Homo sapiens: one gene and its partners. The protein of the gene in region 3 interacts with the protein of the main gene of each other region in a pairwise test. Each region holds a gene or a part of one and is shown on either strand. Other genes may lie near its edges.

Region 1 (7,081 bases), on a different chromosome or scaffold from region 3:
GCATGAAAGGGGCCATCTGCAGGGTCATTTGCAGTGACACTAATAATGCAAGGTCCAGCCCCAGCATGCATCCGGACCTAGAACTGAACAGCAAAACCTAGGCAAGCTCCCCACCTTCTAGATCAGTTCCCAAACTTTCGGGAAACTGTTGAAAGCATAGGTGTAATAGAGATTCTAGAGGCCCACCTTCAAAGGATCTTCTTCAGGGGGTCTCCAGTGAGACCCAGAACTCTACACTTATAGGTGACACTCCCAGGTAATTCTAGAGAGCCTGGAACCTACAAGGCCTCTACCCTGATCTCCCACCTGCTCCCCTATGAAAGCTTGTCAATGAGACAGAAGCAGCACCAGCAGCCCCCGGGGGAGCCCGACATTGGAATACCTGGCTTCTCACAATCCGCTGGGCCTCCCACTACAGCCTCAAGCCAGCATCACTGGCTTTCCTTCTTCCCAGCAGGGAACAGCAGGCACAGAGTCAGAAGTGGGAAATGCAGCTGGACGCCTGCACCACTGCCTGGTCTCTGCCCCTTCTCTCCTCCCCTTTCCCAGCAACACCCCTGTGTCCCCAAGGTCACCAGAATCAGGTGGAAACTGGGTTACATCACGGGACTGGGGAGGCAGCCTTTGTTGGGCCTGCTCTGATAACATTCAGGTGCTGGCCTTGGCCACTGTGGAGGAGGGGCAGAAACAGAGGGACTGGGTACACCGTCCACACCTCATGACCCCAACAGGAGCAGATAGGTGCTGGGAAACAGTTCTTTCTGAATCTCAAACTCTTGCTCTTACTCTCCTTTTTTTGGGCGGGGGGGCTGGGGGGTGGGGAAAGACAGCTTGTTGCTCTGTTGCCCAGGCTGGAGTGCAGTGGCGTGGTCATAGCTCACTGTAGCCTCCAACTCCTAGGCTCAAGCCATCCTCCTACCTCAGCTGCCTGAGTAGCTGGGACTACAGGTGCATGCCACCATGCCAAGCTAATATTTAAAAAATTTTTTTAGATACCGGGTCTTGCTTTGTTGCCCAGGCTGGTCTTCAACTTCTGGGCTCAAGCAATCCTCCCACCTTGGCCTCCCAAAGTGCTGGGATTACAGGCGTGAGCCTTACTGCACCCAGCCTTCCCTCTCTCTCTCTTTTTTTCTAATACAAACTGGCAGATGATGATTCAATCTCTCTATTTTTTTTCATTTTATTGTTTTATTTATTTTAGTAGAGACAGGGGTCTCGCTTTGTTGCCTGGGCTGGTTTTGAACTCCCGGCCTCAAGCAATCCTCCTACCTCAGCCTCCCAAAGTGCTGGGATTATAGGTGTGAGCCACCAAGCCTGGCCTCTTTTTTTTTTTTTTTTAAGATATTCAAAGGTATCCTTATTTACTTAGATTTTTTAAATCAAGGTATAACATATACAAGTGTGCAAATCTTAACCACACAGCTTGATAAACACTTGATGTATATACACCCACTCTCAAGAACAAGATGTAGAGTGATTCCAGAAAGCTCCCTCCTGCCTCCTCCCAGTCATAACTCCTAACAAGGACAGCCACTGTCCTTATTACCATGTTGTCATGTGGACTGTTTTTGAATTTCACATAAACAGCATCATATAGAATGTACTCTTTTGTGTCTGGTTACTTTCACTCAATAATATTGAATTGTGAGTTTTTTTTTTAATGTGAAGTCTTTCAACGTTTAGAAATTCAATGACACTCTGTTATACAGGTTTTGTTTGTTTTCTGAGACAGAGTTTTGCTCTTGTTACCCAGGCTGGAGTGCAGTGGCGCAATCTGGCTCATTGCAACCTCCGCCTCCCGGGTTCAAGTGATTCTCCTGCCTCAGCCTCCCAAGTAGCTGGGGTTACAGGCGCCTGCCACCATGCCCGGCTAATTCTTTGTAATTTTAGTAGAGATGGGGTTTCATCATGTGGGGCAGGCTGGTCTCAAACTCCTGACCTGGAGCGATCCACCGGCTTTGGCCTCCCAAAGTGCTGGGATTACAGGTGTGAGCCACCGCGCCTGTCCTGTTATACAGTTAATGAATATTATGGTCATAATATACTGCTGTGGTTTGAATGTATCCTCCTAATTTCATGTGTTGGAAACTTAACCCCCAATGGGGCAGTATTGAAAGTTGGCTGTAGCTTACGCCTATAATCCCAGCACTTTGGGAGGCCAAGACTGGAGGATCACTTGAAGCCAGGAGTTCAAGACCAGCCTAGCAACAAAGCTACAAACCATCTTTCCAGCAAATTAAAAACTAAAAAATAAATTAGCTGGGCCTGGTGGTGCAGTTCTGTAATCCCAGCTACTCGGGAGGCTGAGGCAAGAGGATCTCTTGAGCCCAGGGAGTGGCGGCTGCAGTGAGCTGAGATCCATCACTGAACTCCAGCCTGGGCTCAGAACGAGCCTCTGTCAATCAATCAATCAATCAATCAATCAGTGTCTTGTCTGGGCCTAAATTCTCTAGAACACAATGGAAGAGAGAAAGTGAAAGAAGGTGGAAGTAACCCACAGCTGGGAGCCCTGAACCCTGCTGGTGGCAGGTGGCTCTCGTGTCCTCACCAGGTTGCCCTGCAATCACATGCTGCATCCTTTTTCCTGAACCTGCCCCACGTGCCCCACCACGCAGCCACTCCGAGGGCTCCTTCAAGGGCGGCAGCCCTGTCACTCACGTGTTCCAAAAGTGCTTCCCCTGTGCCCTGATGGCCTCGCCATGTGTCTCATCATGCCCCACGCGCTCCCACTGTGCGCCCCACCTCGCACCCGTGCCCCATCATGCTCTGCGTGCTCGTTAGGTGCCCCATCATTTCCCGCTCGCTCTCGTTACGTACCCAGCCTCCGGCCCCTGTAAGTGCCCCATCGTGCTCTCTGTCGCTCCAGTTAGATGCCCCATCCTGCCCCGCGAGCTCCAATTACGTGCCCCACCTAACCCCCCACGTCCGTGCCTCATCATGACCCGCACGCTATGGTTACATGCCCCGCCTCGCGCTACCGCGCGTGCCCCATCATGCTCTGCGCGCTCCCATTACGTGCCGCCACCTCGCGCCCCTGCACGTACCCAACGTGCCCTGCGTGGTCCCGTTACGTGTCCCATCATGTTTCGTGCGCTCCCATTACGGATCATACCTCGCACCTCACCGCGTGGCCTCTGTAGTTCCAGAGCTCGCGAGGGCCAGGGCCGTTGGCGGCGGTTGGAACGAAACGATGAGTGCCTCCTCGTGGCCCCAGAATGGAATGCCGCCGTCGGTAGGGGTCTGCCGGGCATAAAGGGGCCTTCGGAACCCCACCAGAGTCACAGCCAGGGAGGGCAGCGGGGCGCACCAGGCCGAAGGCTCACGCCACAGGGAGGGCAGCTAGGACATGGGGGGAAGCGCGTTAAACCAGGGAGTCCTGGAAGGGGACGACGCCCCCGGCCAGGTGAGGGCCCAGACGTTTCGGGGGCGTAGACGCTGAGGGGTGGCCGGGTGGGTCTGCGGCTCTGAGGCCTGGCTTTCATTCTCCATCAGTCCCTGTACGAGCGGTTAAGTCAGAGGATGCTGGACATCTCGGGGGACCGGGGCGTGCTGAAGGACGTCATCCGAGAAGGAGCTGGAGACCTAGTGGCGCCTGATGCTTCGGTGCTAGGTACGCCCTGGGGCGGTTTGTCCTCAGGATCCATGTCATCGCACTCTGTTGGGAAGAGAGAGGCCTCATTTTCAAAAAGCACTTAATGGGGTTGGAAATGCTTTGTTTGAAGTGGATTTTTGTTTTTTGTTTTTGAAACGGGGTCTTGCTCAGTTGCCCAGGCTGGAGTGCAGTGGTGCGATCATAGCTCACTGCAGCCTCCACCTCCTGGGCTCGTGATTCTCCTGCCTCAGCCTCCCAAATAAGGGATTTACAGGCGCGATCCACCATGCCCGGCTAATTTTTAATATTTTTGTAGATATGGGGGACTCTATGTTGCCCAGGCTGGTCTCAGACTCCTGGACCCAAGTGAGCCTCCCACCTCAGCCTCCCCAGTAGCTGGGATTACAAGCATGAGCCGCTGCTTCCGGCCTGAATTAGTTTTTTTAAGACGAAAGCTAGGGACTCCTATGTCCCCTTTGTGTGATGCTTCCGCAAAGCTCTTGAACCTCTGAGCCAAAGGGCCGGCACCCAAAATGCAGAGAGAAGATTTATTCCTGTACCTCGGGGTGTCGGGCAGCTTAAGCTCATCTGTTCACATTGTTTCTGTGTGATCATGAGAGACTCGATATTATGGTGGCGTGGGTGTTTTTGGTCCATTTTCCTTACATTCTTTCTTCTATCCTAGTGAAATACTCGGGATACCTGGAACACATGGACAGACCCTTCGATTCTAATTACTTTAGGAAAACTCCTCGGCTAATGAAACTTGGAGAGGGTAGGTTCAGAGTGGGAGCTGGAGAAGAAGGAATTGTTTAGGGGCTAGATGAGGCACGATGCCTCAGGCTGGGAAGACTGCTCAGAGCGCAGGTTCTTTGAGTTGGCTTTGCTGAGGCTGGGTTTTGGTAACACAGCCATGTTCTCTCCCCTTGAGACCTAGGCATTTGGGAGATGGCTTAACGGGCAAGGTATAATCTTTGCACTCTGACTTAACTAACCACTGGGAATGTTTCTTTGTTCATTTATTAAGTAAAACTCAATCGAATACTTACTTCCCACAATACATGGTGAAAAGAGAGGATGTACTCAGAAGATTAGAACATCTCCACCCTTAAGGACCTCACAATGTAGTGGAGGAGACTGACCTGCACTCAGCTCACTTGGTAGAATCGGATGAGTGCCTGGGAGGTGAAAGCAGTGTTGTGGGTGTGCTTAATGAAGGCATGATTAATTCTAGCTGGGAGGTTCAGGGAAGGCTTCCTGGAAGTGGGGGCATTTGAACTGAGCCTGGAAGTTTGAATAAAATTTATATCAGTAGAAGCTGGGCACAGGCTCAGGAGGAAGACATTGCAGGAAGAGGGAACTGTGTGAGGGAGACATGGAGGCCAGAGTACTGCTGACTTAGAGGGGGAAGAAACTGATAGCACTGAGCAGGATACTGAGCAAGCTTCACCCACCTTCTTTGTCCATTCTTACAGATATTACACTGTGGGGCATGGAGCTGGGCCTTCTGAGCATGCGGAGAGGAGAGCTGGCCAGGTTTCTGTTCAAACCGAACTACGCCTATGGAACGCTGGGCTGCCCTCCCTTGATCCCCCCAAACACCACTGTCCTGTTTGAGATTGAGCTGCTTGACTTCCTGGACTGTGCTGAGTCAGACAAGTTTTGTGCTCTCTCAGCTGTAAGTTCCAGAGCACAGATGTCAGCACTTTATAGAGAGACGAATGGGTTGGTGTTATTGGTAATTCTTCTAGATGGCCTGCCCTGAGGCTGATCGTCCTCTCCAGGGTACCCCCGCGGCTCCTGTGCGGTGGCGGCGGAGTTCCTCTGCTTCCTAGTCTGTGTTTGTCTTAGTAATGGCTCTCATGTGTAGATAAATGTGCTGGGCAAGGTAAGGCTGTGAGTTTAAGGATTAGTGGTTTGAACTGATTTTTCAGTCATCCTTTGCCTAGTTCTCCCTGTGAGACAGTGAACACTTGCTTTTCATCGTTTGGTTTCCAGCAAGGCAGGCATTGGTAGCTCATAACTAGGGTGACTGAATAATTGATTGTCCAGCCCAGCACAGGTGAGAGTAAAAGGGGCTGTTCACTGGAGGGGTTACCCATGACATCGGGTTTAAACTGAGACAGTCCCAGGCAAACTGGGATGTATGGCCACTGTCCTCACCACTTAAGTCTTGCCTCCTCTTTGTAGCCTTTCACTTAACCCTGTCCCGTAGATGCAGGGCTTCTGACCCCGTCAGCAGTCACAGGCACTGTCTTTATCATGCTGTCTCACACTGACTCCATCTGTGGCCTTAGAGGTCCATGCCAGGGTTTATATCTTCACATGGAGTCTCCCCAGCTAAACTGTCAGCACTCCAAGTGAGGGAGCTCACCCTTTTTCATCATTCTGAGATTCGAGTTTCTTGCAAATGCCTCGTCCCACCTGTGGTGAACTCATTTAGGATCTGGGGGGTGGGGCCGGGACCAGAGAGGCTCTATGGGTGACTCTGAAGATGGCCAGGGCAGAGCATCATGACCATAAAGACTGCCAGGGCCCTGAGCAAACCAAGACCTGTTCAGTGCTTGGTGGCCAAATAGTGGTTTTGAGCACTGACTTCTGTGCTTGGCAAGTTCCGTCAGTTTTTGATTCCATGGGACACTGCTTCCTCAGAGAACATCAGGGGAAGACTGAAGACGTAGACTTCCTTCTGGCTCTAGGGTGTAAAATGGGACAGGTTATAACACTGGTGTGGCTTCTGTCAGATTCAGAGGTGACTCCAACACAGAAGGCTGTAAACAGAAGTGCATGATCTGAAAAAGAAGAGCTCACAGCTGTAGTAACACTTCCTTTCTTTCAATTACTATTTTTTTAAATGGAGACATGTTCTCACTATGTTGCCCAGGCTGGTCTCGAACTCCTGGGCTCACGTGTACTAACACTTCCATTGTGGCATTACTGCTTTTGGTTTCCTTGCTGAATATTCCTGTCTCTGGTCCTCAGGAGCAGCAAGACCAATTTCCACTTCAGAAGGTCCTGAAAGTGGCAGCTACGGAACGGGAGTTTGGCAACTACCTTTTCCGCCAGAATCGTTTCTATGATGCCAAAGTGAGATATAAAAGGGTGAGAATGCTTTGAAAGTTAAGTGTAAGTTTAGATCCTGAAAACTTCCTTGTTTAAAAAACACAGATTTTGTTTTGTTGTGATTTTTGTTTTGTTTTGTTTTTGAGACAAGAGTGTCGCTCTGTCGCCCAGGCTGGAGTGCAGTGGCGCAATCTCAGCTCACTGCAAGCTCCGCCTCCTGGGTTCACGCCATTCTCCTGCCTCAGCCTTCCAAGTAGCTGGGACTACAGGCACCCGCCACTTCACCTGGCTAATTTTTTTGTATTTTTAGTAGAGACAGAGTTTCACCGTGTTAGCCAGGATGGTCTCAATGTCCTGACCTCGTGATCTGCCCACCTCGGCCTCCCAAAGTGCTGGGATTACAGGTGTGAGCTACCGCGCCCGGCA
Region 2 (7,657 bases), on a different chromosome or scaffold from region 3:
AAATAAATTGTGGTAGCCATTCTTCAAGATGGGCCCCAGGGATCCCCACTTCATGGTATTCATCTCCTTGTGTAGTCCTCTCACATTTTACCACGGTTGGTCTATGTGACCAATAGCATATGGCAGAAGTAGTGATATGTAACTTCTGAGATTAGGTTATAAAAAAGACTGCGGTTTCTGTTTTAGTTGCTCACATGCTGTCTTTGGGCTGTGTACTCTGTGGGAAGCTGCCATGTTATGAGGACACTAAGGCAGCCTGGGGAAAGGCCCACTTGAGGAGGAATGAACTGAGGCTTGCCAATAGCCGCATGAGTGAGTTTGAATGTGAATCCTTTAGCCCCACCTGAACCTTGAGATGACAGTAGCCCAGACCAAAAGGTTGACTGAAACCCCATGAAAGATCTTGTCCAGACCATCCAGCTAAGCCCTACTGTATTCCTGACCCACAGAAACATTGTGATGATAAATGTTTATTTTAAGCTGCTATGTTTTAGGGTAATTTTTATGTACCAATAGATAACTAATACACAGACATTAGCAATAACTAATACACAGTAAATAATTGCAAATTGTAATAAATGCATATACCAATCTGATGGTAAAGCAGATGTCTGTCACAAGAAGTGGTATGGTCAAGTGGTTAATGACATAGGCTTTGGAGCCTGAATGCCTAGGTTCAGATCCTGGCTTTGCCATATACTAGTGTGTGACCGTGGCAAATCATTTCAAAATTTTTTTGGCTTCTATTTCCTAACTTGCTCATTTGTAAAACAGATAATAACAGTACTTATATTAAGGTTGTTGCGAAGATTCAACAAGTTAGAAAATGAAAGTGCTTAGCTCGGAGCCTAGCACATTTTAAGTGCCCAATTAACATAACTATTGTTATTCTGTATGGATTATTGAGCATTTGTCATTAATATATTTGCCTCAGCTGTTTGCATATTGTCCTTCACATTGGAAAATGACTACTGAAGGTGAATGCTCTGAATAAATTTGACTCAAATTTAACAATGTAGTTCTGAAAGAAGAGAAAGACCCTCTCATATTATTTTATATTGTTTTATACTCAGTACCTGTTTTAAGAAAAAACAACAAGGAAGTAAAACCAAAGACAGGCAGCCCGGCGCCTGGCCCGAAACCAGGCCTGGGCCTGCCTGGCCTAAACCCAGTAGTTAAAAATCAACTCATAACTTAGAAACCGATGTTATTCATAGATTCCAGACATTGTATAGAAGAACATTGTGAAACTCCCTGCCCTGTTCTGTTTCTCTCTGACCACCAGTACATGCAGTCCCTGTCACATACCCCCTGCTTGCTCAAATCAATCACAACCCTTTCATGTGAAATCTTTAGTGTTGTGAGCCCTTAAAAGGGACAGACATTGTGCACTCAGGGAGCTCGGATTTTAAGGCAGTAGCTTGCTGATGCTCCCAGCTGAATAAAGCCCTTCCTTATACAACTCAGCGTCTGAGAGGTTTTGTCTGTGGTTAGTCCTGCTACAGTTCAAAGCTGTGTTTAGCACCTACTGTGCACCAAGGAAATATGCTAGCTGCAGGATGAAGTTTAGTAAGACATGGTTCATGTTCCCAGGGGTTCAAATTCTTGTGGAAAAGGCAGAAACAAATGTATTCATGTAATAAAGGAATCTAAGTCTAAAAAACTTATGAGTTGAAGAATCTTTGAGAATTCATCATGATTACCATTACATATGATATACTCATGTTTTTCTAGGGAGAAATATGACAGTTCTATACCCAGAAGAAAATTTGAGAATCAGTTTAGAAGTTGAGAAATTAGGCCGGGTGCAGTGGCTCACGCCTGTAATCCCAGCACTTTGGGAGGCCGAAGCAGGTGGATCACAAGGTCAAGAGATTGATACCATCCTGGCTAACACAGTGAAACCCCTAAAAATACCAAAAAAAAAAAAAAATTAGCCAGGCGTGGTGGCAGGCGCCTGTAGTCACAGCTACTCGGGAGGCTGAGGCAGGAGAATGGCGTGAACTGGGGGGTGGAGCTTGCAGTGAGCCACGATCACGCCACTGCACTATAGCCTGGGCAAGAGCGAGACTCCCGTCTCAAAAAAAAAAAAAAGAAGTTGAGAAATAAAAGATGTGTTTTAACTGCTAATGAAAGTTATAATTTATGCTAGGAAGCCAAAGTACAGAGGAAAGCAGAAAGCCGAAATGAAGACATGCTTGGCTTTCAACTTAAGTGTCACTTCATCAGAGAGGCTTCCTCCATAGCCCCTCTTCTCTTCTTTGATATCACTTATTATATTAATAATATATACTTAATTGCATTTGTTTCATATTTTCTCCGCAGTTAGACTATAAGATCCACGAAGGCAGGAATCACAACTGGGCTTACTTACTATTGTAAACTCCCCCACTTATAAATCTGACTCAGCATCTAGTTCAATCCCTGGTACAAAACAGGTGCTTAACAAAAAAATTTTTTTTTTTTTGAGACGGAGTTTTGCTCTTGTTGCCCAGGCTAGAGTGCAATGGTGAGATCTCGGCTCACCGCAACCTCCGCCTCCCGGGTTCAAGCGATTCTCCTGCCTCAGCCTCCTAAGTAGCTGGGATTACAGGCATGTGCCACCACACCCGGCCAATTTTGTATTTTTAGTAGAGATGGGGTTTCCCCATGTTGGCTAGGCTGTTGTCGAACTCCTGACCTCAGGTGATCCACCTACCTTGGCCTCCCAAAGTGCTGGGATTACAGGCGTGAGCCACTGTGCCCGGCCAACACATTTTTATAAATGAATGAATGTTAAATGAATGTTTAGAATTATTAGAATTCTATTGGGTAGATGAGGCCCATAGAAAACTCTTGAGACCAATGTAGCAGGATTCTCAGTGAAAGACTAAGTTTGTGTGCAGGGATGTTTTCCTTCTCTAGCAAAGAGAGGTGCTGGAAAGGCTTTCATGGTCCATAAGAAGGGAATTGTTTTGGAGGGCAGTGCTATAGCAACTCTTCCCCTCCATTCACCACATAAAAAATTCAGTTAGAAAATAGAGAGGAATCAGCCTTCTTGTGCTTTGAAGACTGTGAAAGATACTGGTGATCATCCATCTAGCATCCATTTTCCTCTTCTCCTTTACAGGTCTCCAGTTTTATTCAAATAGCCATGTCTCCACCTTGCAACTCATGTGACTCAAAGAGCACTGACACCATTGCCAATTCCAATTGTCATAGCTCCTTTTCACTTCTGGAACCCAGGCTTAAGCTGTCTGTACATTTCCCAGGCAGTTACTGGTAAAGAGGAAGAGTGTGTGCCTGTGTGAACTTATTGGCTCAAAAAACCAGAAGGAAAGGTTTTAGATGAAAAAGAAAGTATGTGGTCCTGATTTCTCCAAGTAGACATCTGGAAAATCACGTTAGTATGAATTTGAAGTCTACCCTTTTTTTTTTTTACAACAAAGCAGAGACTAATAGCAACTGGGTCCTTGTTAACTTGCTTAGCCACTGAATTAATCAAAGTCTCCCTTGCCTCTGAGCTTTCTGTTATGCGAGATAAGCAACTTCTTTATTTTTTAGGAAGACAGTTTAACTCAGATTCTATATCACGTGCATCCAAAATAATAATAACTGACTCAAAGATGTTTGGCCTCTACAATTAGGGCAGCCATTCTCAGAAGAGTATGCAAGGGCACCCTATTATCTTGGAAAAGGGAAGCACTGAGACTATTTGCATTTTGAGAACTGAAAATGCAATCTGCTAACCGTCGTTAGAGTGAATATCCAGGTATGGAAAGCACAGTGGGTAGGCGTAGGTTGGGGTAGGGACATGTTTGCATGGGGCAAACACAGAGATCAAACCTAAGTGTAGTCCCAGCTGCCTGGAAGAAGGCTAAGAAGGGTCTGAAAGTATTGAGCTCCAAGAGCCCTTGGATCTCCTGATGAGAGACCCTTGGCTGATGCCCTAGATGGGACATCCCTGTTGGCTACTGTGGGACCTGCATCATTTGACTGCAACACAGTCTGTTGCAACATTTGACTGTAACACAGACCTACATCATTTGACTGATTTGAAAAGACAAGTTGTCAACAGCGACACCATGTGGCTATAAGATACAATGACAATGGTGGACAGCTACAGCCTCAGGTAGGGCCTGACGCTTCGTCGAGATGTGGAAAATGCTGAATGGGAAGATGAACTGTCGTCAACAAATATTTATTGGGGTCCTCCAAATGTCAGCTGCTACAGTGGTCATTCAGGTCTGGAACATCGAGAACATGCTGACCCGTACCCCAGCAAGGGCTCGTAGTCGCGGCGGGGTAGGGGGCGAGAGAGAGGGCAGTCTCTGGTGGCCAGGTAACCCAGGCTTCACTTTCACCCACGGCCACAAGTATTTCTGACGTCTTCCGGGCAAATAAGCCTCCATGTAAGTGACAGGGCACCCAAGGAGTGCGTTGGAAGCGCCAGCGTGCCCGAGACCAGCACATCGCACCGACGCCTTCGTTTGCGGTAAGCCCCGCCCCCCGTAGTGAGCCAACCGGAGGGAGCGGGGCGGACCCAGCTTCCCGGAGAGGCTGGAGAGAATCGTTTGGGGGCATTCGCAGGCCAAAGAGGGGCTGGCCCTCGACGCGCTCGGGCTCGATTGGCCGCCCTCCCCCGGCGGTGGTAACGGTCGCGGAGGCGGGGCCTGACGTAGCTGATCCCAGCCTAACCTGGCCCGGCTGGCTGCTGGTGGGAGGCCGGCGACTGAGTAAGGTGAGTGGCTCTCGGGGCTCTCAGAGGCGTCGGCGTGAGCCCCTTCCCGGAGTACCCCGGACTTGACCTCACCTGGGCCTAAAAGTGGTCAGACTGACCCTTGTCGGGGAGGAGCCATCTGGGACAGGGTCGCGCCAATTAAAAATCCCTGCGTAAGGGTTTGGGGATCGGACAAAACTGCCTCCAGTCCCAGCTCCCCAGGCTTTGTGTTCTTTGGCTTCTCCTTTAATGTCTCAGCGCCTCCGATTCTTTATTTGTATACTAAAGCTGGTAATTCTTGCCTTACAAGGTGGTTGTGAGGGTTAAATGAGGCAGTAAGAGTAAAGCTTAGAATCACGTCGGGCACAGACTCGATTTAAGCTGTAGGTAATTACTCCATCCCCCAAAATCGACCCGGGCTGAAGCGCTAGTTTTGTGTCAAACAACCGCGAAGGTTGTTTGGGGAGTGAGGACTCGGAGCAGAAGGGGGCGGTTAGGCGAATAGCACAGGTGAGTATCTCTTTCTCCAGTTTATTAACCTCATTCCGGATTCAGGAGACCTCTGACTTTATACAGGGCCTAATAGGAGTTTTTCAAGGTGAAAAATGCCAGAAGGCTAAGTCACCTGTAACAGAGAGACCAATCAGAGTTTCCTTTTTTACTGCCACTTTGTTTTTCAATCAATGATATTAAACAGGCAGGGCGCAGTGGCTTACGCCTGTAATCTCAGCACTTTGGGAGGCCGAGGTGGGCGGATCCCCTGAGGTCAGGAGTTCGAGACCACCCTGGCCAACATGATGAAACCACGTCTCTACTAAAAATACAAAAATTAGCTGGGCATGGTGGTGTGCGCCTGTAATCCCAGCTACTCGGGCGGGTGAGGCAGCAGAATCGCTTGAACTCGGGAGGCGGAGGTTGCTGTGAGCCGAGATCGCGCCACTGCACTCCAGCCTGGGTGACGGAGCGAGACTCTGTCTCAAAAATATATGTATAATATATTAAACTCTGTGCAGGCATTACCCATATTGGTTTCAAGCCTCTGCATGAGTTTTGTACTTTAAATATTGCCAAGTAGACTCTGGCCTCCCCTGCCCCGCCTTTTGGGGAAGAGGTGGCTGACTTGGAGTTTTCCCTACAGCTTTTGCTTCAAAGCAAGGTTCTGCCCCTTCATGTCACCTCTCCTGAGACAGAATGATTTGGTTGAGATGACATTCCATTTTAACTCTTTCCTATTTGGGGTAAGTTCAGCTCTTTCTTAGGAACATTAAACAGCAAGTTGCAATATTTTTAGAATAGAGCTTTTGCATTTAATAAGGAATAGAGACTTCGAAAGGGTTACATGTTCATTTATTGCAGTAATTTGAAGTATATACTTTTGAAGATGCTTACAGATTTTGGTGTGATTCAGTTGAGAAGGAACAGTTATTGGCCATGGTTTATTGTCAGCTCCCCTCCCCCACCCCAAATGGTGAAAAAAATAATTAAATTTTAAGATATGGAGCATGTTACAAGGGGCTTCAGACCTATAAAGGGCAATTTGGCTGAAAGACTCGGGAAACCTAGAAAGTGCCAGAAGATGCAATTATGTTTTTGCTTTTCTATGCTTGGCTTACTATGCCATGTACAAATCAACTCCTACCCTCCGACTCCTACCCCCCGACTCCTACCCCCAACAATCTTATTTTAAGTGTGTTATGACAGTAATTAAAGCTGTAGCTTCTGTTTTGGCCCTAGAAAGCATTTGGTCTCTTCCTGTGACTTTAAAGTTCCAGACCTTTGTCCTGTCACAGCCTGTAGTGGGGAAAAGGCTGCTGCAAACTATTGGCCCGTTTATTTCACAGAATGGTCCTCTGAAAAGGAGGGCTTGGTCACAGGTGCAAATGAGGAGTAGTTTTGTTCCTGTGTTTGCTTTTGTGATCAGTGGTAGTTTGTCTGAGGATGCTTCATTTTAGTATCCTTGCAAATGAGAATATCCTACCTGTGGAGCCAGAAGTCAGAATTGATGATAGATGATGATAGATTTGGATACCCAGCTAAATGTCTTAACAAGGTAGGGAGAGGAAAGATAAGAAGGAGAGAGAAGAGAAGGGAAGAGGCATATGATGGTGAGCTGGGAAGGCCATTAGCAGTTATTTCAGTTGTGCCTGCTTTATCTGTGATTACCAGTACCTTGGATGCCTGCTCTGGGAGTAACACAAGACCATTCTTACTAGGAGGTTGAACATTTCAAGATTTTGTTCTTTTTATCTTTTTGAAACCTAGATGAAGATCCAGTTTCAGACATGAGACTCGTTGGGTGATCATTTCATTGAGATCAACCTGAATGACCAGGTGTAAAGTGCAAGAGTAATATGCTATGACTGAGGTATGTCTAATGTAACGGATGACTCCAGATGTTGGGAGGCCATGGAAAAAAATCTAATATTTATTGAGTACTATACTAGGTTCATTACATATATTTCCTTTTGACTTCCTGATAATCCTATCAGGTAGATATTTTACAACTCAGCAAAGAAGCTGAAGCTCAGAGAGGTTAAATACCTACTTAAGATAACACAGAAAGCTGATCACCAACTCTAATCACAGTCTCCATCCTGCTGTGTGCCAGACAATGCTTTATGTTCTTTCTATATTAACTCTTCTAATCTTTAACTCGTGAGCTGAGTACTTTTATTATCCTTATTTTATGATGAGGAAATTGAAGCACACAGAGATTAGTACTGTACTCTCCTGGCTGTGTGGCAGAATCCATGATTTGAACCCAGGCAGTCTGGCTACAGAGCTCTGCAGGTTGAGTATCCCTTACCTGCAATGCTTGGAACTATGTTTTGGACTTTTAGATTAAAAAAAAAATTGGAATATTTGTATATACATGAGGTATCTTGTTTAGAGTTGGGTAACTCTAAACACAAAATTCATTTATTGTTTCATATACAGCTTATACACACAGCCTGAAGC
Region 3 (7,432 bases):
GAGTAGATAATAAACGTTGCATTAATCACTTAGTTAATAATTTAATGGATGGATGGAACAAAAGATGGGAAATAAAAGTGGTTGTATCAATAGATAATTGGCCAGGTATTGAGAGAGATGGATGAATGGTTGAGTGGATGTTATCAGTAGTTGGATAGATGGATGGATGGGTGGATGGATGGATGGATGGATGGATGGATGGATGGATGGATGATCCAAAAGTTTGGTGAATGGATAAATAAAGAAATGAATGAGAGTTCAAATGCCTAAGCATCTCTTGGAGAAGTGGCTCCATCTCTACTTCTCATTCTGGGCTCCCACTCCCTTCTCTTCCCTCTTACCTGGTGGCTTCCTGTCGTTTGTGGAAGGTGCGATTAGGGAGGTTGGCAGACACGAAAGTTTCATCGTATCCCGAGGCATAGGCCTTTCCATTCCGCTTGGAGGCCTGGAAGGCAGCCCTCAAAGTCTTCCAGGGCAGCTTTTGGGGGCCTGCCCACAGTGGGACCAAGTCAGGGGCTGCCCTCTCCCTCTCAGCCCACCAGGCAACGCCCCCCAGCACCCAGAGCACAGCCCAGCCTGCCTGAGCCCCTGCCTCCCTGACTGCTCCCTGTTCCCTGCGGTGTAGCTTCGGGGGAATCCAGGCTCTGAGCCCCACGCTCACCACAGTCCAGGTCTCTCTGTAGCTGCCTGTGCAGCTTCTCCAGGTCCCATGGCCCCTGCAGCTCCTTGGCCCTTGTCTTCCTCCATTGTCGCCTTCGGAGGTTGTTGAAGCTGGGGCTGCTCCCCTGGCTCTGGCCCTGCACTTCTCCCTCATCGGAGGCTTCCTCTCCAGAAATCTGCCCCTTTCTCTGACAACCAGCCCTCCTTCTGCAGGGAGTCCTGTGCTCTCCCTCCTCAGCCTCCTCTGTGGCCTCTGAAAATTGCTCCTCCTCTGAGATCGACCCCCTCCTGGGGCGCTGGGGCAGCACCCCAGAACTCAGACCCCTCTCGGCCTCCTCAGCACCCAGGCTTTGCAGCTGGACCTGCTTGTCGGACGCCGATCCTGATCCTGGCCTCCTCCCAGGCAGCTGGAGACCACTGGGGGGCTCTGATCCTAGCTCCCCTTTGCCAGTAGGGATGGAGACACCGCCCCAGGCTCCCAGCTGCTGTCTCGCCTTCAGGTTTTGCGCCTCTGTCTTCCAGCAGCAGCCATGGGCCTCTGGGAGGTTGGCCGTGGACTTGCGCCTGGACTGACGCTGGGAGAACGAGGAGGGCATGGGCAGGGCTTGGTGGCCAGGGGTTGGGGAGCTTGGCTGAAGCACAGCCCGGACATCTGTGGCGATGCTCTCCCAGGCCCACTGGAAGGGGAAGGAGGGTTTCCGAGGAAGAAGCGGGAAGTGACTGAAGAAGGAAAGGGTGGGGGTCAGGGTCGGCGCCAGCCCCCAGAGGGCCCTGACCCCCAACAGCCTCCTGACCCATCCCACTGCTGCTTACTCTTCAGACTCTTCAGAGCCCTGTCCTTTCTTGCTCTGGCCCCTGGGCTTGCGGTCCTTCTTTGCTGTCTGCCTTGAGCTCTGAGACCTCTGCTGCAGGTCTTGATTTGGCACACCATCACCACTCCCCAGGCAGCCCTGGGCAGAGACAGTAGGGGAGGAGCAGCCAGCTTGAGCAGCCTCCTGGACTGTGTTGCACCTCACCCGGGTGCTCCCTCTGTGCACCTGGCTGGGCCTGGCTGGGTCCCTCTGGGCCCTCGTTACCATAAAAACCAACCAAACAGGGCTGGATGTGGTGCTCACACCTGTAACCCCAGCACTTTGGGAGGCCAAGGGGGGCGGATCACCTGAGGCCAGGAGTTCGAGACCAGCCTGGCCAACATGGCGAAACCCCATCTGTACTAAAAATACAAAAAAAATTAGCCGAGTGTGGTGGCCTGCGCCTGTAATCCTAGCTACTTGGGAGGCTGAGGCAGGACAATCGCTTGAACCTAGGAGTTGGAGGCTGCAGTGAGCCGAGATTGTGTCATTGCACTCCAGCCTGGGCAACAAGAGTGAAACTCCATCTCAAAAAAACAAACAAACAAAAAAACCCGACCGAGCACCACCTCCGTTCTGCATATTAAAATAGCAACAGCTGCCACCTGCTGAGCACCTATTGTGTGCTCAGGACTTTCATGCATAAACACACGTAACCTTCCCAAGGACCCTAGGAGGCCGGTACTCACTATCACCTCCATCATGTGGAGGAGAAAGCTGAGGCTCAGAGAGGCTGAGTAACTGAGGTCACACAGCTGGGAAGTGGTGGAGCCCAGATTTGTCACCATTGCGCTAGGCCACCTCTGGGCCCTGGACTGCACTCCCAAATGTCCCACTGGGCCCTGGACCTGCTACAGCCAAGGCAGAAACCAAGGTGGTCTTCATCAAGGTGGTCTTCATCTTTCCTGAAACCTGCTCCTTCCGCAGTGTTCCCTGAATGGCCCCATCATCCCTGGGAGTCACTCCTGGGCGTCATCCCTCGGCTTCTCCCAAGGCCCTTAGGCCTCCCTGTGGTCCCTGTCCCACTCCTGCCTCCCTGAGTTTCATCTGGACCTCAGCTCAGGTCTTGTGGCTTCTCAAGGGCCTCCCCAGCCCAGGCCTCCCTGACCCACCTGGCTCTAGGCAGCTGGAAGTGTCCTCACTGGGCCTCCCTCACCTGCTTGTCCTGAGAGACGGTCGACAGCAGCTTGAGCAGCCCCGTTCTGGTTCCTGGAGCCTGGAGCCGCACGTCCTGCCCTGGTCGCACCGACGGGGTCCTAACCAACTGTTGGTAGGTATTTAGCATATCGGTGTCCTGCCCCATCCTGCCCCATCCCCCATCCGCACCGTAGAACTGCCTAACAGGCCATCTCTATGGCAACCAGTCCTCAGCCAGTCTCAATGGGTCTGGCAAAAAGCATGCTAGGAAGGGGTCAGTGGGGTATGTGAGGCCAATCTCCTTCTGGGAGAGAGTTCAGCAGGATGCCCAGGAGTCATTTAGCGCAGAGACCCAGGCCCAAGTCCTGCCTCTGCCTCATCCACAGGCTCCCCGTGTGACCTGGTGTAAGTCCCCTGTCCCTACTCTGCCTGTGTTTCCCCATCCATCTGTACAGGGGAGTCAGCCTGTCTCCTGTGCTGCCCCCCGGCCTGGCCGAGTCCCTGAAGGAGCCAAACTGAACTTTCACAAGATTTTATTTAAATCCTTGCACTCCCAGGCTGGGAGTGGTGGCTCACACCTGTAATCCCAGCACTTTGGGGGGCTGAGGCAGGTGGATCACTGGAGGTCAAGAGTTCAAGACCAGCCTGGCCAAAATGGCAAAACCCCATCTCTACCAAAAATGCAAAAAAGATTAGCCAGGCCTGGTGGCGCATGCCTGTAATCCCAGCTACTCAGGCTGAGGCACGAGAATCACTTGAACCCGGGAGGCAGAGGCTGCATCGACCCCAGATTGCACCACTGCACTCCAGCCAGGGCGACAGAGTGAGACTCTGTCTCAATAAAAAAGAAACAAATAAACAAATCTTTGCACTCCCAGCCCCAGCCAGGAAGTTGAATGCTGTGTCCAGGAGAGAGGCAGCAGGCCATTCAGAGCCTGGGCCCAGGCCCACCTGGCCATCTTCATAGGCCATGAGGTTCTGGAGGGAGTTACAACATTGAAAGCTTACCCCAGGCCGGGCAGTGGCTGTAATTCCAGCACTTTGGGAGGCCGAGGTGGGCGGATTGCCTGAGGTCAGGAGTTGGAGACCAGCCTGGCCAACATGGTGAAACCCCATCTCCCACCTGGATTGAAACTCTATCTCTACTAAAAATACAAAAATTAGCCGGGCATGGTGGTGGGCACCTGTAATCCCAGCTACTCGGGAGGCTGAGGCTCTCCCTCTCCGGGTTCTCTTGAACCCGGGAGGTGGAGGTTGCAGTGAGCCGAGGCCACACCAGTGTACTCCAGCCTGGGCGAAAGAGTGAGACTCCATCTCAAAAAAATATATTTTTTTAATATAAAAAAAGTAAAAGATCTTACCCCAAACTTCTAGCAGTGCTCAAAAGCCTTGGAATCTTAAGTCCCCATGGGACGCCTGGTGCTGACCACTGAGGCTTGCAGTACAGGGATGTGGTGCTGAGCTGAGGCCCTGGAGACGGACCAACTGGGCTGGAGGCCTGGTCTCACTAGCTCTGTGACCAACTCCCCACTCTGCAAAACTGGAATCACGGGCCCAGCTCATAGGTTTGTTGCAAGGACTACATGAAACCCCAAACGATGACATCGGTAAATGTTATTATTACTAACACTAGCTGGCCGTTCTTTTGAGGCAGCAGAGCATCATGGCTAAGAGCATAGAGGAAGCGCTTGGGTGCAAATCCCAGCTCCTCCACTTGTCCCGTACCCTCTCGGTGCCTGTTTTCTCATAGGCAATGGGGAGGGGATGGTTATAATCGGATCTACTCCCAGGGTAGTGGTAAGGATTAAATCACTATGCAGATACAAACAGAACATCCTCATGGCTCATGGGAACTGCTATGTTAGCATTGCTGTTATTCTTATTATCTTTTTTTTTTCTTTTTGTGATGGAGTCTTGCTCTGTTGCCCAGGCTGGAGTGCAGTGATGTGATCTCGGCTCACTGCAACCTCTGCCTCCTGGGTTCAAGCGATTCTCCCACCTCAGCCTCCCGGGTAACTAGGATTACAGGCATGTGCCACCATGCCCGGCTAATTTTTTGTATTTTTAGTAGAGAGAGGGTTTCACCATGTTGGCCAGGCTGGTCTTGAACTCCTGACCTCAAGTGATCCACCCACCTTGGCCTCCCAAAGTGCTGGGATTACAGGTGTGAGCCACTGCACCGGGCCGTGTTGCTGTTATTAATTAATCAATGATGTGGCCCCAGGGAAGCAGACTATCCTGGAAGATGCCATAGAGGCAGGATTTTTCTCAGACTGTGGCCCTGTGGCTCCTCTTCTGCTCTCAGACTCCATCCCAGTGGCACCTCACAATGAGCACATCCAATGTAAATATCCTAAATAGTGCTGCTCCGGGTGAAGCTCTTTTGCCACCCAAAATATGCAAACTCTTTTCTTTCTAGGGGGCTGCCATCCTTCTCCCACACCTGGGGCCCAGTGGAAGGCACATGTAGGCAGCTTCACTTTCAGAAACGGAGCCCCTTCCAGACCTCAACCCCAGGTGATTTCCTGGACAGTCCAGAACTCTGGGCCACTTTCTTCCTTGGCAGAGGGCAGGTCTGGGTTTCTCAGGTTGATATTCTCATGAGGTGCATACAGACCTCTTTCCTTTACCACACTCCCTCCCTAAGTGAGCTCATCCAGTCTGATGGCCTTAAAAGCCACCTGCTGCTTGCTTTCTGAGACAGAGTCTCACTCTGTCACCCCGGCTGGAGTGCAGTAGTGCCATTACAGCTCACTGCAGCCTCAACCTCCCAGGCTCAAGTGATCCTCCCACCTCAGCCACCCGAGTAGCTGGGACTACAGGTACGCGCCACTATGCCCGGCTAATTTTTATATTTTTTGGTAGAGATGGGGTTTTGCCATGTTGTCCAGGCTGGTCTTGAACTCCTGGCCTGCCTCGGCCTCCCAAAGCATTGGGATTACAGGCATGAGCCACTGCGCCAGGCCAGCACCTGCTGTTTTCCACCCGTCCCCAGGTTTACGTATCTCAGCCTGACCTCTCCCATACTTAAATATCCAGTGGCCCATCTGACATCCCCACTTGGATAAATAAGCATTTCAACTTGACATGCTGAAGGTCAGACTACTGGCCTGCCTCATCCCAGTCAGGGGCATGTCTGAGATTCCTGTTGCTCAGGTCAACGCCCTGGCATGATCCTTGACTCTTTCGTTTGACTCACATTCTGCCCCTAATGCCTTAGCAAACCCTACCAGCTCCACCTTTGAAATACATGCAGAATCCAGCACTTCTCCAAACCAACACCCTCTCTCTTCTGGATCATTTCAGTAACGCTTAATCTCCGGCTTTTGCTTATTTATTTATTTTTTATTGACATGGGAGCTCACTATATTTCCCAGGCTGGCCTCGAACTCCTGGCCTCAAGCCATCCACCTGCCTCAGCCTCCCAAAGTGCTGGGATTATGGGCGTGAGCCACCACACCCAACCTCCCGGTTTTTGCTTTTGTCCTGATACCATTCTCTACTCAGCAACCAGTGTGATTCTGTGAAGAATAGAGCCCAGCTGGACGCAGTGGCTCACACCTGTAATCCCAGCACTTTAGGAGGCTGAGGCAGGCGGATGGCTTGAGGCCAGGAGTTCGAGGCCAGCCTGAGCAACATGGCAAACCCCTTCTCTACAAAAAATAATACTAAAATTAGCCAGGTGTGGTGGAGTATGCCTGTGATCTCAGCTACTAGAGAAGTTAAGGTAGGAGGACCACTTGAGCCCAGGAGGCAGAATGAGCCCTGATTGCACCACTGCACTCCAGCCTGGGTAACAGAGCAAGACCTTAACTAAAAAAAAAAAACAAAAAAAAAAAAACAGAGTCCATCACGCCTGTGATGGGTCCTGGGTCTCGCTGAGTAAAAGGCAAAGTCCTTACTGGCCCACTAGGTCCTGCATGTTTCACAGGTGTTTGCTCACAAGTGCCACCATGATCCCTTCTCACTCCGATCCAACCACACTCTCCCTTCGGTACGCCAGCCAGTCTGCCCTAAGGCCCTTTGCACCGACTGTTTCTTCTTCCTGAAATGCTCTCTCCCCAGAATCCACATGGCTTACTCCTTCAGGACCTCTAGGTTTCTGCTAAAATGACACCTGCCAAAGAAGCCCTCCCTGCCCAGATCCCCTAAGTCCCTAATAGGCACCACCATTTGCTCTGCTTCTCTTATCACCGCTTCACACACATTCATTCATTTGCTGATTGCCTGCTCAGCGATGTGGCTCCGGCCGTCCTCCCACTCTCTCCTGCATCAGCAATGTCTCATCTCTCTGGCATCATTTCCATCAGCACTACTGTTCCTTCTTTCTTGACTCACTTCCCCTTCTTCAACACTGCCCCATTTCTGTGTTCCCTTTGCAGCAAAGCCTTCTGAAAGAGTTTTCACTGGGCAAGGTCAATTTCCCCCTTGCCTTTCTTTCTTGAACCCACTCCAGGCAGGCTGTCACCCCCACCACCCTGTGAGCCTGCACCTGCCAAAATCACCGATGCCTTCCCTCCCACTAACATGAGGTCAGTGGCCAGCTCTTCCCCAGCTCCTCTGCCAGTTCCTCCTCCTCTTGCAGGAGAGGGACAGCTGCCCCGTCTGTCTTCTTTGTCCACAGCTACTCTGTTGCCCAGGCTGGAGTGCAGTGGTGAGATCTTGACTCACCACAACTTCCGCCTCCCAGGTTCAAGTGATTCTCCTGCCTCAACCTCCGAAGTAGCTGGGACTACAGGCGCAAACCACCATGCCTGGCTAATTTTTGTATTTTTAGTAGAGAC

What was found.
Region 1: the proteins of TSGA10IP (region 3) and TRIM50 interact in binary tests that used the Homo sapiens proteins (3 or more experiments, as listed by UniProt).
Region 2: the proteins of TSGA10IP (region 3) and CEP70 interact in binary tests that used the Homo sapiens proteins (3 or more experiments, as listed by UniProt).

Annotation. Positions count from the first base shown.
Region 1 is NC_000007.14:73,325,083-73,332,163, forward strand, and holds the start of TRIM50 (E3 ubiquitin-protein ligase TRIM50), read right to left. Parts: upstream 3,001-7,081; 5' UTR 2,818-3,000; intron 494-2,817; exon of another isoform or gene 383-493; intron 1-382. Other genes in the region: inactive peptidyl-prolyl cis-trans isomerase FKBP6, read left to right, coding at 3,347-3,403, 3,493-3,610, 4,278-4,367, 5,068-5,270, 6,575-6,694. UniProt on the Homo sapiens protein: E3 ubiquitin-protein ligase that ubiquitinates Beclin-1/BECN1 in a 'Lys-63'-dependent manner enhancing its binding to ULK1. In turn, promotes starvation-induced autophagy activation.
Region 2 is NC_000003.12:138,591,261-138,598,917, reverse strand, and holds the start of CEP70 (centrosomal protein of 70 kDa), read left to right. Parts: upstream 1-4,657; 5' UTR 4,658-4,720; exon of another isoform or gene 4,721-5,209; intron 5,210-6,961; 5' UTR 6,962-7,055; coding exon of another isoform or gene 7,056-7,064; intron 7,065-7,657.
Region 3 is NC_000011.10:65,941,058-65,948,489, reverse strand, and holds the start of TSGA10IP (testis-specific protein 10-interacting protein), read right to left. Parts: upstream 3,011-7,432; 5' UTR 2,815-3,010; coding exon 2,668-2,814; exon of another isoform or gene 2,624-2,667; intron 1,611-2,623; coding exon 1,474-1,610; intron 1,381-1,473; coding exon 662-1,380; intron 490-661; coding exon 342-489; intron 1-341.